5 linked regions of the Homo sapiens genome follow. The protein of the gene in region 1 purifies or fractionates together with the protein of each later gene. This does not show direct contact. Each region holds a gene or a part of one and is shown on either strand. Other genes may lie near its edges. The genes, in order: HLTF, ANAPC16, RFC2, PPP2R2C and INAVA.

The links.
Region 2: the proteins of HLTF (region 1) and ANAPC16 purify together in Homo sapiens (affinity purification with mass spectrometry; one large-scale study listed by BioGRID and IntAct). This does not show direct contact.
Region 3: the proteins of HLTF (region 1) and RFC2 purify together in Homo sapiens (affinity purification with mass spectrometry, with the first as the bait; one large-scale study listed by BioGRID). This does not show direct contact.
Region 4: the proteins of HLTF (region 1) and PPP2R2C purify together in Homo sapiens (co-immunoprecipitation; one large-scale study listed by IntAct). This does not show direct contact.
Region 5: the proteins of HLTF (region 1) and INAVA fractionate together in Homo sapiens (co-fractionation; one large-scale study listed by BioGRID). This does not show direct contact.

What each region holds. Positions count from the first base shown.
Region 1 is NC_000003.12:149,031,362-149,035,307, forward strand, and holds part of HLTF (helicase-like transcription factor), read right to left. Parts: intron 3,638-3,946; coding exon 3,557-3,637; intron 1,012-3,556; coding exon 859-1,011; 3' UTR 1-858. UniProt on the Homo sapiens protein: Has both helicase and E3 ubiquitin ligase activities. Possesses intrinsic ATP-dependent nucleosome-remodeling activity; This activity may be required for transcriptional activation or repression of specific target promoters.
Region 2 is NC_000010.11:72,228,778-72,233,770, reverse strand, and holds part of ANAPC16 (anaphase-promoting complex subunit 16), read right to left. Parts: intron 3,406-4,993; coding exon 3,331-3,405; intron 771-3,330; coding exon 655-770; 3' UTR 1-654. UniProt on the Homo sapiens protein: Component of the anaphase promoting complex/cyclosome (APC/C), a cell cycle-regulated E3 ubiquitin ligase that controls progression through mitosis and the G1 phase of the cell cycle.
Region 3 is NC_000007.14:74,243,669-74,248,661, forward strand, and holds part of RFC2 (replication factor C subunit 2), read right to left. Parts: intron 3,096-4,993; coding exon 2,994-3,095; intron 1-2,993.
Region 4 is NC_000004.12:6,465,259-6,470,251, forward strand, and holds part of PPP2R2C (protein phosphatase 2, regulatory subunit B, gamma), read right to left. Parts: intron 1-4,993. UniProt on the Homo sapiens protein: The B regulatory subunit might modulate substrate selectivity and catalytic activity, and might also direct the localization of the catalytic enzyme to a particular subcellular compartment.
Region 5 is NC_000001.11:200,913,587-200,917,251, reverse strand, and holds the end of INAVA (innate immunity activator protein), read right to left. Parts: coding exon 3,623-3,665; 3' UTR 1,510-3,622; downstream 1-1,509. UniProt on the Homo sapiens protein: Expressed in peripheral macrophages and intestinal myeloid-derived cells, is required for optimal PRR (pattern recognition receptor)-induced signaling, cytokine secretion, and bacterial clearance.

The sequences.
Region 1 (3,946 bases):
TTCTGAATTATAAAAATTTATAAAGTTACTTCCAAAAAAAGCTACATAAATAAAAATTATCTATTTATAGAAATATCTATTTAGCAGTTCCATAATTTAAAATATTCAAATCAAATTGGGTAGGACTGGTTTGCCTCTCACTCCCACAGACTATATTTATACCTCAGACACAGCAAGTTACATTTAAACAATGAGTGTAGTACTACTTAACTAAAATGGAAAAAATAGTACTCTTAACATAATCCCTAATTTTTTCATGAACATAAAACTCCAAGTCATTTATGTGAACTATATCTCAATGTAGCTGTAGGAAAAATAAAAACCTGTGCTAACCTGGACTTTGGTCTCATTTAAGATTTGGTTCTGGAATGCAAATATGGTTTTTGAAAGCCCAATAAAATTAATTCTTGTATAGTCTGTATATATTGTTTACAAGGACTACAAACACTGCATCACAAATCGGAGGCTTTGGTAAATAACTAAGTGTCCAACATAGAAAATAACTATTTGGTCAAAAGTATAAAAGGTCTGACCTTATTTGAAATACGAAAAAGCTGAGTACTTGGAAGATACGTGAAAATACTCAGCATAGATATTATGAAAAGCTGAATAACAAAGTAACCTTTTTTCTCAAATTATTTCAGGCCACAGTATATAACGGAACTTATTGCTATTTGAAGTTTCATTAAAAATAGGTTCATATATAGAAGAAATTGTGTCAGTAATACCTCTTCACTAATATAAAATATGCCCCTTTTAGAAGACGTGTTCTCTAGATCTCATTTCTAAAACTCTGTATTTTTCTCATTTCTAAAACTTAAGTATCCAATCAAACTGACCTTACTAAAATCCCACAAATTATAAGTCAATTAATGTTCTGATTTCATTAATTTTGGCTTGTTTCATTTCGTCAGCATTTGGTTTTTTAGTTCCAAAGGCTCCTGCTGCAAGTTCTCTCTTTTTGTTTTGTATTTTCAGCATATTTTCTTCAACAGAGTCCTTTACAATGAACTTTAAAAAGAAAAAAAAAAGTTAAGTAGTTTTTAAGGCATAGTATTTAAAATCTTTATTAAAAAAACTAAATGAAAGATTTGCCTAATGGCAAAAACCGCAATTACTTTTGCACCAAACTATAATAACTATTTAATAGAACTGAACTTTGCTTTCCTTACCCAATATGGTTTTCTTATATAAAGAATATGGCTGTACGAATAGAAGTTACAGATCACAAGATAAGCAAAGCAATAAAGAAAAAAAAAGCAAACTATATAGGCAACTCTGGCAAAATGACTTCAGCATTGTATTAAAAAGGCCATTCTGGCCGGGCACGGTGGCTCACACCTGTAATCCCAGCACTTTGGGAGGCCGAGGCGGGCAGATCATGAGGTCAGGAGATCGAGACCATCCTGGCTAACACGGTGAAATGCCATCTCTACTAAAAAATAGAAAAAGTTAGCCGGGCATGGTGGTGGGCGCCTGTAGTCCCAGCTACTCGGGAGGCTGAGGCAGGAGAATGGTGTGAACCCGGGAGGCGGAGCTTGCAGTAAGCCGACATTGCGCCACTGCACTCCAGCCTGGGTGACAGAGCGACGTCTCAAAAAAAAAAAAAAAAAAAACAAAAAACTATTCCCAGAAATTCAAGAATGAATCTTTAGTATAATTCACAACACTAACAAAGAGAAAAATAAAACGTGATCATCTCATTCCTGATAAAAACTTGATTTTAAAATACCCCAACTAGGAATGAATGTCTCAACCTTACATATTTAATGTGAAACAATAAAAGTATTCTACAACAAAACAGAAACAAGTCAAGAATGGTCACTATCTGCTACTATTTAACATTGTTTAAGAAGACCCAATTACTGCAATAACTAAAGCTATATAATAAAATTTTACTGAAATACATATAAGATCTACATAAATGGAGAAAGGATACTATGTTCCTGTATGGAAACATTCGTTACTTATAAAGAAAGATAGTTCTCGAAAGTAATAATAAATTCAATAAATCTCAAGATATCTTAAATGGGATTTTATAACTAAAATCTAAAGTTCAATTCAAGAGCAATAATAATAACCACCAATACAATTTTCAAAAAGGGTCATCAGAACATTTTACCCTATCAGGTATCAAAACTTACTTTAGGAAACCATAGTTGTTATAAGAGTAATACTGCCCTAAGAAAAGGAAAAGAGATCAATGGAACAGAATAGTCTAGAAAAAGACCCAAGTAATATATATAAATTAGTTTATGATGAAAGTGACATTTCATACTAGTAGGGAAAAAGTTGGAATTTTCAAAGAAAAAAAATGATGTGACAGAACAAATCGTTCTTCATCTGATAAAATAATAAGCTTAGACTCATGTCACAAATCATAAAACAAAAAATAAAATCTTCCAAAAGAACCAGAAGTAAATACAGAATAGTTGAAAAAATGTGAAAATAAAGCCTTCTGTCCTAGGTAAGACCTTAAAACCTAGAACGTATAAAAAAGGCTGACGTTTTAAATCATAAAAATTTTAAAGCTTTTTCATGACCAAAAAAATGCAGTTTAAAGACAAGGAAGAGTATGGGATAAACCATTTTCAACATACATAAACAAAAGATTTCAAGTCAGACTGTATCAGGGAGTCCTTTATACTATAAAACTATTTGTACCATAACTATGAGAACTGGACAGAAGATATAAATAATTCACAGAAAAAATGTTAATAAACAAGATATGTGAAATATACTCAAGGTTTTAGGTAAATGCAAATTAGAACAGCACTTTTTTGGCCACAGAAGCATAAATTAACAATTTTCATATAAATCCTATTTTGAAACCAACTCGATAGTTGATAAAAATTCTAAATCCAGAATTCTAGTTTTCTTAACTTATCCCAAAGAATTACTTGCATCTATGTGAAAAGATTTATATATAATAATGCTCATTATGGCACTGTTTTTATTAGCAAAAAACTTAATGGGTTAAATATATTACGATATATCTATATGGTTTTGTAGAGTAGTCAAATTCAGAGAAAGAAAGTAGAATGGTAGTTGCCAGGGGCTGGGGGGAGAGGAATGGGAAGTTATTATTTAATGGATACACAGTTTCAGTTTAAGATGATGAAAAAGTTCTGGAGATGGATGATTGTGATGGCTGTTGCACAACAACATGAATGTACTTAATGCATCTAAACTGTATACTTCAAAATGGTAAATTTTGTATTTTACCACTATTTAAAAAAAGTGTTCATCTAAATGTACTTATGAGGTAGTCTCCAATGTATAGTTTTAAGGGAAACAAATATGTTGTAGAATAAAGTATAATTCCATTTATCTTTAAAAGAATGTTTTTAAGGAGATGTACACATAACTATAAATGTAGGTGCAGAGAAAGGCCCCTTAAACAGCATATATTAAATTATTGATGAAGGAGGAAAAAGGTGACTTATATTTTGCTCTGCATAATTACACTCAATCATAATAATATATTCATGCATTACTTGCTTAATTGTAAAAATCGTATCAACCTAGTCTTAAAATAGTTTGTTTAAAAACTCACTTTTGTGATGATAACTTCTTGCTTCTGACCAAGTCTATGGCATCTGTCAAAGCACTGATCTTCAGCAGCAGGATTCCAGGCCTAACAAGAACATGGATGAGTTACTTTACTACTGCCCTGATCTTTCAGTGTTTTGCATTTGTCCTTTCATTTCACTAGTATTCATTCATCTTTTTCTGACTGAAAGTTTTCTGCCTGAAGTCAGATACTAACATCACAAATACTCTGGGGAAAAATCCACCCTCCCAATCACTATGATGATAGGCATCCTCCCCCTACTACTACTTCTAATACCTAATACAGGCCCCGACATATGTATCAGCACCCAAAATAAGTATTTGTTGATTAATCAATTTGGTTTTTTTTTTCATTTTTAAAAGAATCTATGTG
Region 2 (4,993 bases), on another chromosome or scaffold:
GAACTCAGGATTTCTGTGTTTAAAAGGATTTTGCTTACTGCTTTATTTTTACAAGTGCTGCCATATCCAAAAAGCACTTCTTTTTGCCAGCATTTGGCATGTCTATAAGAGGTTAGAAAAAGTCAGAATCTATAGAATTGATGTCTAAAAATAGGAAAAAAAAAAGAATATTTAAAAATTCCTCATTTGGATAGGTCCTGAGTTGAAAACACATTCATCTGCAAAATAACTTTTTTAGGTCAGAATGCTATATTTTTAACCACAGATGCTGACCTTGACCTTGACTGGTAAATATTTCCAGGCACCATATGGATGACAGGACAGACGCCATTCAGTTGGCCAAATCTGATATATGCCCTACTTGGCTTGTGAAAATTTTTGAGTATCTCTTAACCCCAAACCTCCTGGTTCTCTGAAACTGATTGTCTTAATCTGATTCCCAATACTTTTAAAAACAAATAAACAAAACATTCCCTGAAAGATCACACATATAAGTATTTGTTGCCTGTGAATAGATACAGAGAAACCAAGTACAAATGTGCATTAACAATTCAGTGACGTAGCTGTGGATCTCTGGATGGCTATGTAAGCTGTGAGAAAGTCCCCCACTGGCTTTGCACTTGCTGCGCACCAGAGGTGACCATCCAGGCAGTATCAACCTGAAGAGGGGGTGAATCCCAGCAGCTGCTCGATGGGCTTAAACCGCCACTCGTCAGCCTCCAGCTCTTCTACCAAACCAGCTAGTTTTTCCATCCGAGCAACTTGCTGATCTGTAAGGAGTCAAGGAAAGAATATTATGCAACAACGTATTACCCAAGAGACTGCCACCAGCCACCAAGATGATGACTGGTATAAAAATAATTTCTAGGCCGGGTGTGGTGGATCACGCCTATAATCCCAGCACTTTGGGAGGCCGAGGCGGGCGGATCACGAGGTCAAGAGATCGAGACCATCCTGGCCAATATGGTGAAACCCCATCTCTATAAAAATACAAAAAAAATTAGCTGGACGTGGTGGCATGCGCCTGTAGTCCCAGCTACTCGGGAGGCTGAGGCAGGAGAATCGCTTGAACCCTGGAGGCAGAGGTTGCAGTGAGCCGAGATCGTGCCACTGCATTCCAGCCTGGTGACAGAGTGAGAATCCGTCTCAAAAAAAAAAAATTTCTAGATGGATTTTTTTTTCTCCTCAAGATTCTCTCTCTTTTTTTGGGGGGTGGGGTGGGGGTGGGGAATGGAGTCTTGCTTTGTTGCCCAGGCTGCAGTGCAATGGCGCGATCTCGGCTCACTGAAACCTCTGCCTCGTGGGTTCAAGTGATTCTCCCGCCTCAGCCTCCTGAGTAGCTGGGACTACAGGCACCCGCCATCGTGCCCAGCTAAGTTTTTTATTTTTGTAGAGATGGGGTTTCACCATGTTGGCCAGGCTAGTCTCGAACTCCTGACCTCAGGTGATCTGCCTGCCTCAGCCTCCCAAAGTGCTGGGATTACAGACGTGAGCCACTGTGCCCGACCCTCAAAATTCTCATAATGGGGTCTTATTCTATGCTGGTCAGAAGCTTAATTTTTTTTTTTTTTTTTTTTTTTTTTTGAGACAGAGTTTCACCCTTATTGCCCAGGCTGGAGTGCAATGGTGTGATCTCAGCTCACTGCAACCTCTGTCTCCTGGGTCCAAGCGATTCTGCTGCCTCAGCCTCCCGAGTAGCTGGAATTACAGGCATATGCCACCATGCCTGGCTAATTTTGTATTTTTAGTAGAGATGGGGTTTCTCCATGTTGGTCAGGCCAGTCTCGAACTCCCGACCTCAGGTGATCCGCCCGTGTCAGCCTCCCAAATTGTTGGGATTATAGGCATGAGCCACCGTGCCCGGCCTATTTTTTTTTTTTTAAGTTGGAAGTTTCTTCTAATGTTAAAAGAAGAAAGGCTGGGCGCAGTGGCTCATGCCTGTAATCCAAGCACTTTGGGATGCCAAGGCAGGCGGATCACAAGGTCAAGAGATCAAGACCATCCTGGCCAACATGGTGAAACCCCATCTCTACTAAAAATACAAAAATTAGCTGGGCGTGGTGGCGTGCACCTGTAGTCCCAGCTATTTGTGAGGCTGAGGAAGGAGAATCACTTGAACCCAGGAGGCAAAGGTTGCAGTGAGCCGCGATCATGCCATTGCACTCCAGCCCGGGTGACAGTGAGAGACTCCGTCTCAAAAAATAAAAGTCATTTTAAAATAAAATGATCACATTTTCAGGATGTGCCCTATTTTTTTCCAGAGACAGGGTCTCACTCTGTCACCAAGGCTGGAGTATGCCTCCTGGGCTGAAGCGATCGTCCCAACTCAGCCTCCCACGTAGCTGGGACCACAGGCATGCACCACCATTCTCCACTAATTTTTGTATTTTCTTTTTTTAGATATGGGGTTTCACCATGTTGCCCAGGTCAGTCTTGAACTCCTGGGCTCAAGCAGTCTTCCTGCTTCAGCCTCCCAACGTGCTGGGATTAGAGGCATGAGCTACTGCACCCGGCCTGGATGTGCTCTGTTCCTAAAAAAAGTACTCATCCTCTATGCCATAGTGATTTGTGGACTAAAATCCTAGGGTTAGAGGCAATTACAGCTTTTCCCCCTACATAAAGTTTCAATGGAGAAATGGTCTGGAGGGGGAACACAGTTTGTTGATGCAGAAATGAAGGCCTGGTGAGGCCTAATGTAACAGAAAAAGTGTTATCAGGATGTTAGAGTATAGACAGACCAGGAGGTATCGTACAAATACTTGAAGATGATGATGGTAACCAGTGGAGGACAACAGTAAAAGGAGGTTTCAGACAGGAGAGGAAAAAGTAACACAAGAGGAGCAGGAAGCACTGACTCCCTGGAGGACCAACTTTTTTTGTTTTTCAGACAGGGTCTCTGTTGCACAGGCTAGAGTGCAGTGCTGTGATTCCGGCTCATTGCAGCCTCAACCTCCCGGGCTCAAGTGATCTTCCCACCTCAGCCTCCCAAGTAGCTGGGACTACAGGTATGCGCCACCATGCCTGACTAATTTTTTCTTTGTAGAGATGCAGTTTCACCATGTTGGCCAGGCTGGTCTCAAACTCCTGACCTCAAGTGATCCACCCGCCTCAGCCTCCCAAAGTGCTGGGATTACAAACGTGAGCCACTGCACTCGGCCCCAACCTTAAGCCTCAATGTGGACATTATGACTAGATTAAGACCTAGAATGTTCTTTAATTTAGGAAGTCCACTAAAATAGCCTTGCTGAGTTTGGGGATTTTTGTCACAGCCTCATCCACCCCCTAGCAAATTTATTCTCACAGTCAAGTACGCAACACTCATGTGCTTACCATGTTTCACCTGTTTAAGCGTGGATGCCACTTGATAGCTAAAAACAGATTCGCAGAGGAATCTCTCAGAGCCATCTACAAACAAAAGGAGAAAAGGTTTTAATCTGCTCTAAAGGTTTTATGGCTTCTGATAAACCAAGTAAACTTGTCTATTCTTTTCCCTGCTTGTACATTCAGGGTCTAGTTCTCAGTGTTTACAAAGACGGGTTCTGCTTCATTTAGAACTAAGACTGTTATAAAAGCTATTTATTCTATACCTAGAATATTAAAATAGTCCCTCTACTTAAGAGTTTAAAAATAGTGTTTAAAAAAACAAAAACAAGAAACCTCCGTCTGATGTCCTGGTCAACACTTCCCTCCTCCCAACCTGAGAGTTCCTTAATGTTCTCCTGTATGTCAAGCAAACACTGGCAGCTGACACATTTGGCCTTGTGGCTGGCTCCTGTAGTGTCAAAATATAAAGGTTCACCAAAACTCCAAATCATTTTCAGTCTAAAAAACAAAGCTGAGGAAAAAATTGTTGATTTTTAATATATCAAATTACATCACTCTGACAATCACAGAACACTGCTGGGAAATTTCATTCTGTGAACGCAAACTGTAACCTTGATTTTCCAACTGAACCAAAACACTGCAATTTGGATGACGATAAGAGTATGGTGCAAGTTCAGAACCTAGAATTGTACTGGTGCCAAGAACTGCCAACAAGAAGTGGCCAACTCAGTTGCCACAGCACTTGGAAGATGATCATGAAACATAAGCTAGTTCATGTTATTCCTTGTCAGGCAAGGGCTGATACAGCAAAACATATTCTCAAAAATTTACAGCTCACGTAGAAACATTTGATTTTTAAAAAGGTAGCAGAAACCATTTGGGGGATGTACCTTATTGCGAAAATCCTAAAACAAACGGGGAGAGAGGACACAGCTGTCCTTTTTCAGGCAGTACTTCACGTTAGCACTACTAGGCCTCAAGCATTCACCCATCAATCATGGGTTGTTGTGTTGGCCAGGTATTACATGGCAAGCAGACAGGACTAACACATTCTGGCCTCATGCTGAGTTTCACACAAAGGAAACCTTATTTCAGAAGTCACAATAACCAATTAAAAAAAAAAACAACTATAGATACTGTATCCAAAGAGCTTGAATATATAACCAAGAGGGCATCCTTCCAATATCATCTTCAAAGTGATCAAAAAAAAAAAAAAAAGAGAAAAAGAAAAAAATGAAAGTATAATTATTGGGATGTATACTTTTTGTATTCTTCAGAGACAGTGTTACATTCTGTAAATTCAAACTCAGTCTCAAAAAAAAAAGGGGTTTGAATGTCAGCAGTCATTATCCTATTCATATTCTTGCTTAAAAAGTCCAATTATAACTCATATTTTATTTTAGAAAGAGGAAAGCATAGACAATTAGAGTTTACCTCCCAGATGGTTTGATCCTGAACTTTAGGATTACACACAAGGCAGTGGGAATTATAGGCTATAAGGATCAGGCCAAGATGTATATGGAAGCTCCTGAAAGTGCCACCTCTCACTTGCATTTAATCACAGGCACCATTAGGATAAAATAGTTAAGTTGTGATATTTGCATATTTTCCTTGGTAATGAACTTCAAAGCAAAAGGATATAAGCTAAACTTTCAAAAAGGAACCTCTG
Region 3 (4,993 bases), on another chromosome or scaffold:
TAGCTCACTGCAGCCTCGAACTCCTGGGCTCAAGCAATCCTCCCATCTCAAAAGGCTGATGCGGGAGGACCGCTTGAGACCAGGAGTTCGAGACCAGCCTGGGCAACAAAGTAAGACCTCTATTTCTACAAAAAATTTTAAAAAATACAAAAAAGCCTGTTTACCAGATTATCATAATGTAGAGCAATGCCTACAACATTAAAAGGAAAAACCAGGATACAAAAATTATATATATTATGATCTCAACTGTGTAAACATTGATAGTATATAAAAAGAGAAGAAAAAAAGCAAGTTATTAATGGCCAGGCATAGTGGCTCATGCCTGTAATCCCAGCACATTGGGAGGCCGAGGCAGGTGGCTCTCTTGAGGTCAGGAGTTCAAGACCAGCCTGGCCAACACAGCAAAACGTCAACTCTACTAAAAATACAAAAAAAAAAAAAAAAAAAAAATTGTCTGGGCGTGGTGGCGCACGTCTGTAGTCCCAGCTACTCGTGAGGCTGAGGCAGGAGAATCACTTGAATCCAGGAGGCAGAGGTTGCAGTGAGCCAAGATCATGCCACTGCACTCCAGCCTGGGCAACAGAGTGAGGCTCCACCTCAAAAAAATAAATAAATAAAAAGGCAGCAAACTATTAATATATTCTAAATTTTCTTCAAAGAACATGAATTACTGCCACATTAAAAAAAAAAAATTTTTTTTTTGAAACAGAGTCTTGCTCTGTTGCCCAGGCTGGTGTGCACTGGCACCATCTCAGTTCACTGCAACCTCTGTCTCCCGGGTACAAGCGATTCTCCTGCCTTGGACTCCTTAGTACCTGGGATTACAAGCACCATTGCATTCCAGCCTGGGCGCCACCATGTCCGGCTAATTTTTATACTTTTAGTAGAGACGGGGTTTCCACGTTGGCCAGGCTGGTTTCGAACTCCTGACCTCAAGCAATCTGCCCGCCTCGGCCTCCCAAAGTGCTGGGATTACAGGTGTGAGCCACCGCACCTGGCCCTAAAAAAAATTTATTTCGCCAGGCACAGCACCTCATGCCTGCAATCCTAGCACTTTGGGAGGCCGAGGCAGACAGATCACTTGAGGCCAGGAGTTTGAGACCAGCCTGGGTAACATAGTGAGATCCTGCCCCTGTGAAAAAAAAAATAGCTGGTTGCAGTTGCACAAGCCTGTAGTCTCCGCTACTTGGGAGGCTGAGGTGGAGGATCATTACAGCCGAGGAGTTCAAGGTTGCAGTGAGCTATGACTGTGCCATTGGACTCTAGTCTGAGTGATATAGTGAGACCCTGTCTCAAAAACTACAACAAAAAACAACGTTATAGGGTTAGGGTTCTATATTCTTTTCTTAATGTCATTTCAATTTTTTTTTTTTTTTTGAGATGGAGTTTCGCTCTTGTTGCCCAGGTTGCAGTGCAAATGGCATGATCTCAGCTCACCACAACCTTCGCCTCCGGGGTTCAAGCAATTCTCCTGCCTCAGCCTCCCAAGTAGCTGGGATTACAGGTATGTGCCACCACACCTGGCTAATTTTGTATTTTTAGTAGAGACGAAGTTTCTCCATGTTGGTCTCCATCTCCCGACCTCAGGTGATCCGCCTGCCTCGGCCTCCCAAAGTGCTGGGATTACAGGCATGAGCCACCGAGCCTGGACTCAGATTCTTCATTTATACCAACCGAAGTGTTGTGATGGTTGCACAACATTGCAAATGTACTAAATGCCACTGAACTGTATACTTCAAAATAGTTAAAATGGTAAATTTTGGGCCGGGCGCAGTGGCTCACACCTATAATCCCAGCACTTTGGGAGGCCGAGGCGGGCGGATCATGAGGCCAGGAGATCAAGACCATCCTGGCTAACACAGTGAAACCCCGTCTCTACTAAAAATACAAAAAAATTAGCTGGGCGTGGTGGAGGGCGCCTGTAGTCCCAGCTACTCGAGAGGCTGAGGCAGAAGAATGGCGTGAACCCAGAAGGTGGAGCTTGCAGTGAGCCAAGATTGCGCCACTGCACTCCAGCCTGGGCGACAGAGCAAGACTCCGTCTCACAAAAAAAAAAAAAAAAAAATTTATGGTTAATTATGTCCATTTAACCACAATAAAAAAATTTACAGGCCAGGCACAGTGGCTCACACCTATAATCCCAGCATTTTGGGAGGCCGAGGCGGGTAGATCACCTGAAGTCAGGAGTTCGAGACCAGCCTGGCCAACATGGCGAAACCCCATCTCTACTAAAAATACAAAAATTAGGCCAGGCTCGGTGGCTCATGCCTGTAATCCCAGCACTTTGGGAGGCTGAGGCGGGCGGATCACGAGGTCAGGAGATTGAGACCACCCTGGCTAACATGGTGAAACCCCTTCTCTACTAAAAATACAAAAAATCAGCTGGGCGTGGTGGTGCATGCCTGTAGTCTCAGCTACTCGGGAGGCTGAGGCAGGAGAATCACGTGAACCCAGGAGGCGGAGGTTGCAGTGAGCTGAAATCGCACCACTGCACTCCAGCCTGGGAGACAGAGCGAGACTCTGTCTCAAAAAAAAAATAAATAAATAAATACAAATACAAATACAAATACAAATACAAAAATTAGCCGGGTGTGGCGGCAGATGCCTGTAGTCCCAGATACTTGGGAGGCTGAGGCCAGGGAACCGCCTGAACCCGGGAGGCGGAGGTTGCAGTGAGCAGAGATCACACCACTATACTCCAGCCTGAGTGACAGAGAGAAACTCCATCTCAAAAAAAAAAAAAAACAAAAACCCTCATTTAAATTATTAACGTAAGAGATGCTGAAACCAGCACATTAAATGAATGACTATCTTAGACAAATGTTTGTAAGTTACTTAATAAAGATAAGATTTAAGGTGCAGGCCCCTATTAAATTGCTTGTGGAAGATATGATAAGCAAATCTACCATAAAAGTGCTTTTTATCCTGATTGAATAAAACCGAAAAAGAGATTTAGAGATCAAGGTCAAAATACATTTGGCAAAGCACTCTACCTGTCTGCTTCATCCAGAATGATGATCTTATGTCGGCCTTTGGGAAGAGTGACTTTTTGTTGAGCAAACATTTTAATTTTATTCCTCACAACGTCAATGCCCCTGAAAGAATGACAGGTTTTTACTGGCACCTTCTGAGACCAATTCAGTTGCCTTCACAAGGACTTTTAAACAATCGGTATATCAGGGACTGTGAGGCCCAATTTCCATTTTTGAGTTTTTTTGGGGGGCAATTGTAACTATTTATAAGGATTGAGATTTTATGGCATTTGTTCTTTCTTGGAGGTCTTTCAAAGAACAAAGAAAATATACACTTTTTTTTTTTTTTTCTTCAGACAGGGTCTCGCTGTGTCATCCAGGCTGGAGTGCAGTGGCCCTCTTGGCTCACTGCAAGCTCTGCCTCCCAGGTTCAGTGAGCCGGGATCACGCCACTGCACCCCAGCCTGGCGATAATTCGTCTCAAAAAAAAAAAAAAGCCTCATCCTTCAGTTTTTTAACTGCATTGCTTGAGATACCATATTATCTTTCAAAAGATGTAATAGAAGTGCAGATATACCACCTTTGTTATCTTGTAAGCTTTCACTAACCACAGCCAAGAATTCAAAATTTTTCATTCTCTACCCACAACAGGAAAGAGAAAAAAATTGAGAGGAGGACTCTTCCTAATTATTAGGTGAATCAGAAAATAACTGCAATGTAGGCCAAGCATGGTGGCTCACACCTGTAATCCCAACACTTTAGGAGGCCAAGGTGGGCGGACCACTCCAGGCCAGTTTAAGATCAACCTGGCCAACACGGCGAAAATCCATCTTTACTAAAAATACAAAAATTACCTGGGCGTGCCCGCGCACGCCTGTAGTCCCGGCTACTTGGGAGGCTGAGGCACGAGAATCGCTTGAACCCAGAAGGCAGAGGTTATGGTGAGTCGAGATCGTGCCACTGCACTCCAGCCTGGGTGACAGAGCAAGACTCTGTCTCAAAAAAAAAGAAAGAAAGAAAAGAACAGAACAGAACAGTACAGAACTGCAGAGACACCAATAGCAACATTCTAAATGCTACTGATGGTGAAATTGATCAATAAGCAAAATCTCAGACTATGAATCTTCAGATGCCAATATCCTCCAGACATTTTCCCTAACTGAAGAATCAAGGAGTGAACAATATGCAGCTGTCCCTTGGTGTTCCTGGGGACTGGTGCTAGGCCCTTCCTCAGACACCAAAATTCACTTTTGCTCAAGTCCCTTATATGAAATGGTATAGTATTTGCATATTAACTTATACACATCCTCCAGAACACTTTATTTTTACTTTTATACAGAGATGGGGTTTCATTATGTCACCTAGGCTGGTCTCAAACTCCTGGACTCAAGCGATCCACCTGCCTCAGCCTCCCAAAGTGCTGGGATTATAGGCATGAACCACCATGCCTGGCCGGCCTTCCATACACTTTAAATATACAGGCTGAGTATCCCTTATCCCTAATGCTTGGGACCAGAAATATTTCAGATCTGGGTTTTTTTTTCACATTTTGGAATTTTGCATTATATTTACTGGTTGAACATCCCAGTGTAGTGGCTCACGTCTGTAATCCAAGCACTTTGGGAGGCTGATGCAAGGAGGATCGCTTGAGTCCCGGAGTTCGAGACCAGACTGGGCAACATAGTGAGATCCCGTCTCCACAAGAAAAAGCTGGCATGGTGGCATGTGTCTATAGTCCTAGCAACTTAGCAGGCCAAGGCAGGAGGATTGCTTGAGGCTAAGGGTTTGAGATCAGCCTGGGCAACATAGTGAGATCCCATCTCTACAAAAATTTTTAAACTTGAAAAAAGAGAAAAACTAGTTGGTTTTTTTTTTTTGGAGATGGAGTTTTGCTCGTCACCCAGGCTGGAGTGCTCAACGGTGCGATCTCAGCTCACTGTAACCTCCTTCTCCTGGGTTCAAGCAATCCTCCTGCCTCAACCTCCTGAGTAGCTGGGATTACAGGCACCCAGCACCACGCC
Region 4 (4,993 bases), on another chromosome or scaffold:
TTGTAAAATAAGATAACTGTTGGCCTCTCCCCTGTAGAGCAACCTGGAAGTCAGAGGCCCATGGACCCAATGGGTGAGAGAGGAGCACGGACATTTAATATTGTAACCCCTCCCCATAGGGAAGAGCTGCCCAATGGATGGCAGGCTCTCACCATTTCCACCAATCACGAAAGCCAAGGAGGTAGAAGGCAGGGCCAAGGAGTTCACCCTACCCAGAGTTCCAGCAGAGCAGGGCCAACCCTATAATTCGTGGGGCACAGGGAAAAATGAAAATGCAGAGCCTCTTATTCAAAAAGCAAAGGAAAAGCATCATTAAAGGTGCTAAGATACAAAACCTTTTCATGCCTTCCATATTTTGTCATGGTGTTATTTGCTATTTAATGTCAATTCAAATTTAAAAAAAAAAAAGCTTAAACTCTTAGCGTGCATTTTATCACTCACCATTCTAGTGTGCACCTCCAATTTTAAATGCAAACATAAGAGCACGTAACTGGAATGTAGACTCACCAAAATGCACAAGTTATATTTCGCATATGGATTTTGTTCTTACCAGAGCAGAGGAAACTAACTTAACTGTTCTTATTTCATTTCTGGATATGTGTACATTCTTCCAACACCCTCTACCCTTGGTTCAATAATAAACAAGGAAGGACTAGGAGGAAAAGGAACTATAGGTGCCCTCTTTTTCCCTTCCCTTCTGTGTAATCATTTTCAGTGTCAGCGATTGGCAAATATGGGCACGTAACACACGTTAAGAAAGGACACCATAGGGTTCCTGCGTCATTCATGTTTCTTAGAAGTCACTGCATGAGAACATCAATGCCTTGGAGCATTATTTGAAAGCATGGCCCCTGCCTGTGAAACTACAGACGCACTGAGAAGGTGCATGAGCTGTCCACTGTGCATGGGGCTCAGACGCTCAAGTGAACACAGGGTAGCGTGCTGTGGGAGCCAATATGTGTAACCACAGACTCGCCTGCCACACGTACCCCTCTGCTCATTCCCAGGCTCCCCCGTCCCATCAGATTTCGCTTACAAAACACAGGATCCAAAGTGAAATTCTTAAAAATTTCAAGATAGTAACAGCAGAACATGAACCCAAGCACAGGTCCTTCTGAGTGTGGGGACCTAGATGACCACACAGGTTGCATATCCATGAAGCCAGCCCTGGAGCAAAGCCCTGGAAAATTCCTATAATCTCATGCCAAACTAGAAAAGTAGCCTTCAAAATTGTTGATACAGACAGATTACAGTTTTCATTAAAAACAGACATGGGCATTAAAAAAAGACTGGAAGGAAATACCCCAGTTGCTGAGAGTATGTCCCTCTGCTTGGTGGACTCACAGGAGTTCACTCTCCTTCTCTTACTCCCCATCACACTCTCCATGGAGCCTAGCGCTTCATACAGCGGCTCTTCCAGTCTCAAGGCCTAAACACTTCTTACCAAACATCCCTTAGCTCTGCAAGCTTTAAGGATAAACACTAAAAAGTGTAGCAAATGACAACAGTCAGGAGATGGAGTGGAAAAATTTTATTAGAATTTGATTTTCATCTTCCAGAAAGAAAATGAGAAAAACCGTGCTCTGTGACTGCGCCAAGCTTTAAGTTCGGGTTGATTAAAAAGAAAGGAGCACATTGCTTACAGCAGGGGCGTGGGAGTTGGCCTACACTACAATTTGGGGAAATTGACAGCAGTCGCCTTTTACACGTGTAGAACTTCAGAGTCCACATGCCCTTGGCTCCTTACAGCCTCATGACAACCCAGGGCACCAGGCAGTGCAGGGAAACTGAGGCTCAGAAAGTGATGTGATTTGATGGAGGGCACCCCAGCACTGAAATGGAGCCCACACTCGCTGTGAAGCCCAAGGGAAGCTTATGTAAGTGGCGTTTCCAAACAGAAGCGAAAGGAACACAGAATCTGAACAGTCCACATCTTGATTTTCAAAAGTCAAAGGCTGACTCTCCCTAATCTCCCTCTGTGCCACCACTAATGTCCCCCCTCTTAGCCTCAGTTTCCCCATAGGTTGGGGTGGAAGTTAGGCTAGCCAGTCTGATGACAGTTCTAAGGGCTAGTCTAACTCTGGCCCCTAAAGAATAGACATCATCACTTACTGATCTATTAAGAATAAACTGAGGCTCAGAGAGACCGTGTGACCTGCCCAATATTACAGACCCAGGGTCAGACCCCACCAGGAACCCAGATCTCCCGATGCCAGATCTCAGGCTCTCTTATCTGACCAAAAATACCTCCTCAATAGGACTGAGGAGGGAAAACCAGAAATTGGCAACCTTGACTTGAGTGAAATGAAAGAGGGTTCTCAAAACAGAAAGCAAACAAAAATCCCTCTGGGTTTTATGTATCTCGAGTCTTAGCTGTGGGTTACAGATCAGCCTCCTGGTTTTCTTGATAAGCAGTCAGGGCTGTACGAGTTGGGGTGCTATGGGCTGCAAGTAACGGAGACTTGAAAGTGCACAACGAAAAGGAAAAGTAACAGCTCATGTAACTGGAAGTTCAGAGGCGGCCTGGACATCAGGCCTCTATGTCCTGGATCTCACTCACTCTCTGCCCTGCCATCAACGGTGGTGGCCTAAGACTTGCTCCCCTCATGGTGTCAGATGGCTGCCAGCCACCACAAGGTTTCCCTGTTCCCATCACAAGAGAGGGACCAACTACCTGTGGTTCTCCCTACTTTCCACTCAACCTCCAGAACTGACTCCCACATCCATTCTGGAACCAGTCACTGCAAGGGGAATGAGATCATCCTTGCACTGATCACATCCAGCTATGGCCTGAGATCTCTTACTAGGAACCATATGTGTTCTCCTTGGAAGAAGAGAGACTAACTGTTGTGGAGATCAGCTGCAACGTCCACCATAAGGGTGCAGATTTCACTGAATGCTGAGTCTCCCACAAGCAGCATCCCCTCTTCAGTGTGGTTTCCTGGGCAGAAAGTAGATGGTATCCAGGGCACAACCAGTTCAAAACCTGCAGACAATTCCATGCAGGAAAACCTGCCTGCCTGCTGCGTTCAGACAGCCTCAGGACCCCATGATGACCTTAGCAATTCCCAAGCATCCTTCACTTCCTCAACTATAAAATCAGGACAACTCTGTGGGAATAAACAGACTACTCTGAAATCACACAGGACATCCAGGGATGGGAGTTAGGAAAACATGGGTACATCCTTTATGCAGATGCAAAAAGCATGAGTGTCCAACAGTGTGTGATGGCTGAGATGCTCAAACAAGGGGAAGCTGTGCCTCTGGCCTCAGCTGAAAAGTGTGCTCCGGAAGTGCCTTACCTGTCAGGCACATGAGAGTGACTGTTGCTCCCCAGAAAGACCCAGTCACTGCCAGGATCTACCTGGTCAGCCTGAACCACCTCCCCTTGGCTGAGCTCCTGTGTCTTGGTCATCACTGCTGCCCAGGGCAGGATGTGCTTGGCAAATGGTGCTAAGCAAAGGAAGGATGGATGGGTTTTGTAAGTTCAGTCTAGTCTGGAAGTGCTTATTCAACTCACTCTAAAGCTAAGTACTGAGGCCTGCCGCAAAAAGAGAAAGAACAGAGCCAGGAAGAGTCCTTCCTGGAACCATATCCAGCTCTTGAGAAATGTCTAACTAGATGGAGACTTCCTAGCACCCTCCAGGGTCCAGGGCCCAGGGCCCAGTGCCCTATCAGCTGCACTGCTCTCCCCACACCCTGACCCCATTCATGCAAAGTTCTCTGTGCCCCCAGGTGGCCTGCAGGTACACCTAATCATCACCATAACCCTCAATGCAGTTGAGCCCAGCCAAGAGTAAGCCACCCAGCCCTGCCACCAAAAAAAAAAAAAAAAAAAAAAAAAAAAATCCAACCTGCTCTGACGAATTCACACCAAGATGTGAATGACTAACAAAACCTAAACTCTTCCTAAGATGTTTGAGATTTTACAAGAGACTCAGGAACCCAAGCAGGGCTCCCACGGGCAAAGATGACATTGGACATGGGGCCCAAAGGATGAGAAAGAGTCAGTGGTGAGAAAGGCAGGAGGTGGGTATTCCAGGCAACAGCCATTGCAAACGCCCTGAAGCAAGAAAGAAAATGGCCTGCTCAAGGAACAGGAGGTAGATCAGAGCAGCTGGGGTGTGGTGGGGGAGTGTAGACTCAACCACAGGTAGAACAGGAGTTTGTGCACCTGGTTCTTCCGCAAACTGAATTTTAGCATCCACTGTTTGCCCACAGGCTCTTCCAGTTACAAGGCATATAAATAATAACAATGCCATGTGTTCAATGCCTCCAACAACCCAAGCACTGTGCTGGGCACTTTTGATATTAGCAAAATCACTGATCATCCCAGCAACCCTGTATGAAAGGTCGTTATTATTTCTCCCTTTACAAAGGGAAAGTGAAGCTCAGGAAGGTGTAGTAACTTGTCCAAGGCTGCACAGCAGTCAGGAGTCAGAGGCAGGACTTTAACATGATTCAAGTCTGACATTCTGACATTCAAATCTGTGACCTTCCCTGTGCTCTGAGCATGAAATATAGTCAGGATGCAACAGTGTGAAAGTGTGTTTTTCATTAGGGAGGCCAGAATTCTACCTATTATAATGATTATTATTGTTTCTTGTTCCGATCCTGCTCTCTGCATCCGCAGCACCTGAGCCCTATGCCCTGCACACACTGGCACTCGGTCTGGACCAGGCACAAGGCCAGGCCTTGGTTTGTTCATCTCAAGGTGGGGATAAGGCGTAGGTGAGCCTTCGTATGAGGTCCCAGCACACAGCAGGTGCTCAGCATCCTTTGGCTGCACGTTAGCAATGCATAGCTCTGAACGGCTCCTTCAACACCGTTGCACCTGCTCCTCACAGAAACCTCCAGACCCTGTAGGCAGGATTCACTCCCATTTTACAGATGGGGAGACTGAGCCCTGGTGAGAAGACAGACCTCAAGGTCATATAGCTCCCTGATAGAATTCAGGCCGCACAAGGGCAGGGAGTCTTTGTCCAGTCCCCAG
Region 5 (3,665 bases), on another chromosome or scaffold:
AGATTCGGGACCCTCTGAAGGGCCCTGGTCCCTCCTGATTTGCCTAGTAGTCTTCCATTCTGGGATCTTCCAGCATAGAGAATCTCAGACTCACAGGTGGGCTCCTAGGTCACAGTGGCCATCCCTCTGCCTCCAGGCCAAATTGCCTCTGGGAGTCTTGCTGCTAAAATCCCGAGGTCCCCTCTTCCCAGAGGCTTCTGTCCCCACCCCCTAATTCATAACCTTACTTCTGCCCTATGGTAGGGGAGCTAAGAGCCCCCACATGTCTGCCCCTCCCAGACATGGCCCAGGGAAGCCTGCTGGTGGACCAGGAAGAAACTGCTGTGCAACCTGGTTCTCTCACCGCCCTGCACTTCGGGTCCCCAAACGGGCGCGTCCCATCGCTCACTGCCTTAAAGGGCCTTGCTCTGCCCCTGTGTCCGTCTCTTTTGTATCCCCCCTCTTAGCTGGTCTCTGTCCTGTTGTTGGGAGCTGCCCCTTGGACAGGTCATCCCCTGGGAACTTGCTCACCCTGTTTTCCCCGGGCCTAACTCACCATCGTCTAAAATACAGAATCCAGCGCCCCATTCCCCACAAATAATAGGTCGAAGCGCTCAGGTCTGAGATCAGGATACCCCACAACTTCTCCAGAGACCCTGGAGCCGTCTCCCCTCCCCTACCTTCCCCAAGAATGGAGTGCCCCAGACCCCTGAGGCCCACAGATCCCCGCGGCCCCCAGGGCCGCACCCAGGCAAGGCTGGAGGCGCCCCTTGGGCAGCGAGGGCCGGGGCCCTTCCCCGCCCCTTCCTTGGCTGTGGAGGGAACTGGCGGGAAGGGGGACCCCTTTACCTGACACGCCGGCGCCTCAGGTCCGGGCACAGCCTCTCCAGGGGGCGCTGTGCTCCGGGGCCCTGGAGCGGTCCCTGCAGGGCAAGCACGGAAGTGTCCAAGGTGGCGCTCCCCGCCCCTGGCCTCAGTGGGACCCCAGGCAGCGGAGGGGCTGTGGGCACTCTTGCCGATGGGGGAGGGGCCTGCGGAGAGCCCCGCCTCCTCACCACCCCAAGGAGGGGTCCCAGTCTTCCAGGTATGGGGAAGGGGCTGTTTCTCATGAGCCTGGGCTCCGGGCAGTCAAAGCTCCAGGAATGGCTTGGAGGCGCTGAGCCACCCATCTCTACCCTCTGCCTGGCCAGTGCCCTGTCCTTGGGGAAGTGACTCCCACAGGCCAGCTCCTCAAGCTGAAGAGGCTGTAAGGAGCCTTGACAGGGGTTGTGCTGGCTTCCACCCTGCCCCGGAAGCAGAGAATCTGAGAGCCTCCCTCTACCACCCAACCCATCACACCAGCTCCCCAGGGACCTGGCCAGACCAGCTGGAGGGGCCGGGCAACTTGGCCACCTTGGCGGGCAGCCCAGGGGGCCGGGCTCAGCCTCTGCTCGGGGAAACCTGGCGCGCGCGCGCGCGCACACACACACACACACACACACACACACACACCAAAAAATAAAAATAAATAAAAATAAAAAATCCCTCATCCCCAGCTCAGCCAATCACAAAAAACAGACTTTATTGAAGTATTTAGCACTAAACCCCACACAATTCCAGCTCTGTAGCTGAGGACACAGCCACTTGGCAATGGCACCAGGTGTTATACAAGACCAATAAGTTAATGTAAAGGACGCTTAGGTGTGGAGGGCCAGTGCTCAGCCGTCTCCTGGCTCAGAACAAGGCACTCTGGGCTCCAGTTAGGACACTGAGAGGCCAGGGAAACCAACATGCCCTGGAGAAAGGGGCTTAGAGACAAACCGGAAAAGCACAGCATCCAAGCAGGGTATTCACGCATGGGGGGCAGAGTAGGCCCAAAAGTTGGGGGTTGCTGATGCGGTAAGAGCACAGTGAGAGAAATGCCAGGTGCATCCCTTCAGCCTCCTGCATCCTCCCCCAGGTTCCTTTGATGGGCCATCCTGGGTCTTCCCTTGGCACCCTTGTGCAATCGGCTACATCGTTTTCTTTCCAGTAGAGAGAACTGTGCCTCTTCTAGGTCAGACACCAGAGTTCTTGGAACCTTCTGCTATATTCACAGTCTGTTCCAGTCCAGGTAACATGGGGGCAGAGAGTTCTGCACAGGTGAAGTCAGAACTCAGCTCTCCCTACCTCTCCTAGCCTCAATTCAGTTGCTTTCTCATTGAAGCAGGTCCCCTGACCTGGAAGCAAAGAAGGCCCTAGGATGAGAACCCAGGGACAGCTGGGTGGTCTTAGCACAGGCAGCTTCCAGACTTGCTCCAGTCGCTGCAGCTGGGACAATTAATGAATGCCCCCAAAGAAAATTCAGCATCTCATCAGCCCTTGGGAGTGAGTATGTCCATGTTTGTATAAATAACCACCTTCTCAGAGCAGAAGCATAGCTGGTGGGGGGAGTAGGAACTGTGACTCCCTCTCCCAACCAGAACATGCCACAAAAGTGGTGCCTTTCCAAAACCACTTGTAAAGTATTGGTTTTTGGGACTATGATGAAAAAACGTTAGAAGGGCCAGGTGCGGTGGCTCATGCCTGTAATCCCAGCACTTTGAAAGGCCAAGGCAGGTGGATCACTTGAGGTCAGGAGTTCGAGACCAGCCTGGCCAACATGATGAAACCCCATCTCTACTAAAAATAAAAAATTAGCAGGCATGGTGGTGCTTGCCTGTAATCCCAGCTACTCGGAAGGCTGAGGCAGGAGATTCGCTTGAACCCGGGAGACGGGGGTTGCAGTGAGCCGAAATCTTGCTACAGCATTCCAGCCTGGGCGACAGAGCGAGACTCCATCTCAAAAACAAACAAAATGTTAGAAGGAGCAGTGGGGCTGCAAGCCCTTGAGATGCCCAGAGGTAGCTGTCAAAGGGTGGCTGCTGTCCACTAACCACAAGCATGGACCAGCCCCCAGCCAGACCCCCTGAGGCTACAAACTGTGATGCCACTGACTCAAAGCTCAGGGGTCTGGGAGCCCACAGGGCATAGACAGGGTATAGTGACTGGGTCCCTAAAGAGGATTTAGGGGGTCAGGAAAATAGCAGGGTCTAGCAAGACAATACACCACCGGGATATACTGACCTTTGACCTACCACTTGGTGTGTGCATCACAGAGCACATTAGAAAAGGGGGAAGAGATTCTCCCCCAGCCCAGGCTGGGGTACCCAGAGACCTGGGAAATGGGGGAGAGTCATGTGCATGAGTATGTACCATGTCCAGCCTCCAGCAATAGTGGGACAGGAGGGCCAGGGGCAGTTCCCCAGGGAATTTCTTAGAACCAGAGCACAGAGCGTTGGAGAACTCCCAAGGTGGCTCACTCTGCTTCACTCGTCCCCTGCCACTTGTCTTATATAAGGAGATAGAGGCTGTCAGTCAGACAGGCAAGGCCTTAAGTCCAGTAGGCCAAACTCTGGGGGATAAAACATAATCATATCACAGGGGTATTGAGGACAATCCACATATATAAATCCTTAGGTCAGGGCTTCTGAAAAAAGTCGTGTAAAAAAAAAATAATAAAAGGTCTCAGCTCCAGGTCATCGGCCTGCGATGGGGATGGGGGAGCTGAAAGAGGCACTCAGGGGTGGGGGGGTCTCAGCCCAGCCCCTCTATGAAACAGTTTTTTCCAGCGTGGGGCGCAGAGTTACACCTGGCTGATGATCTCTCCTTTTTCAGGTACAAAGACT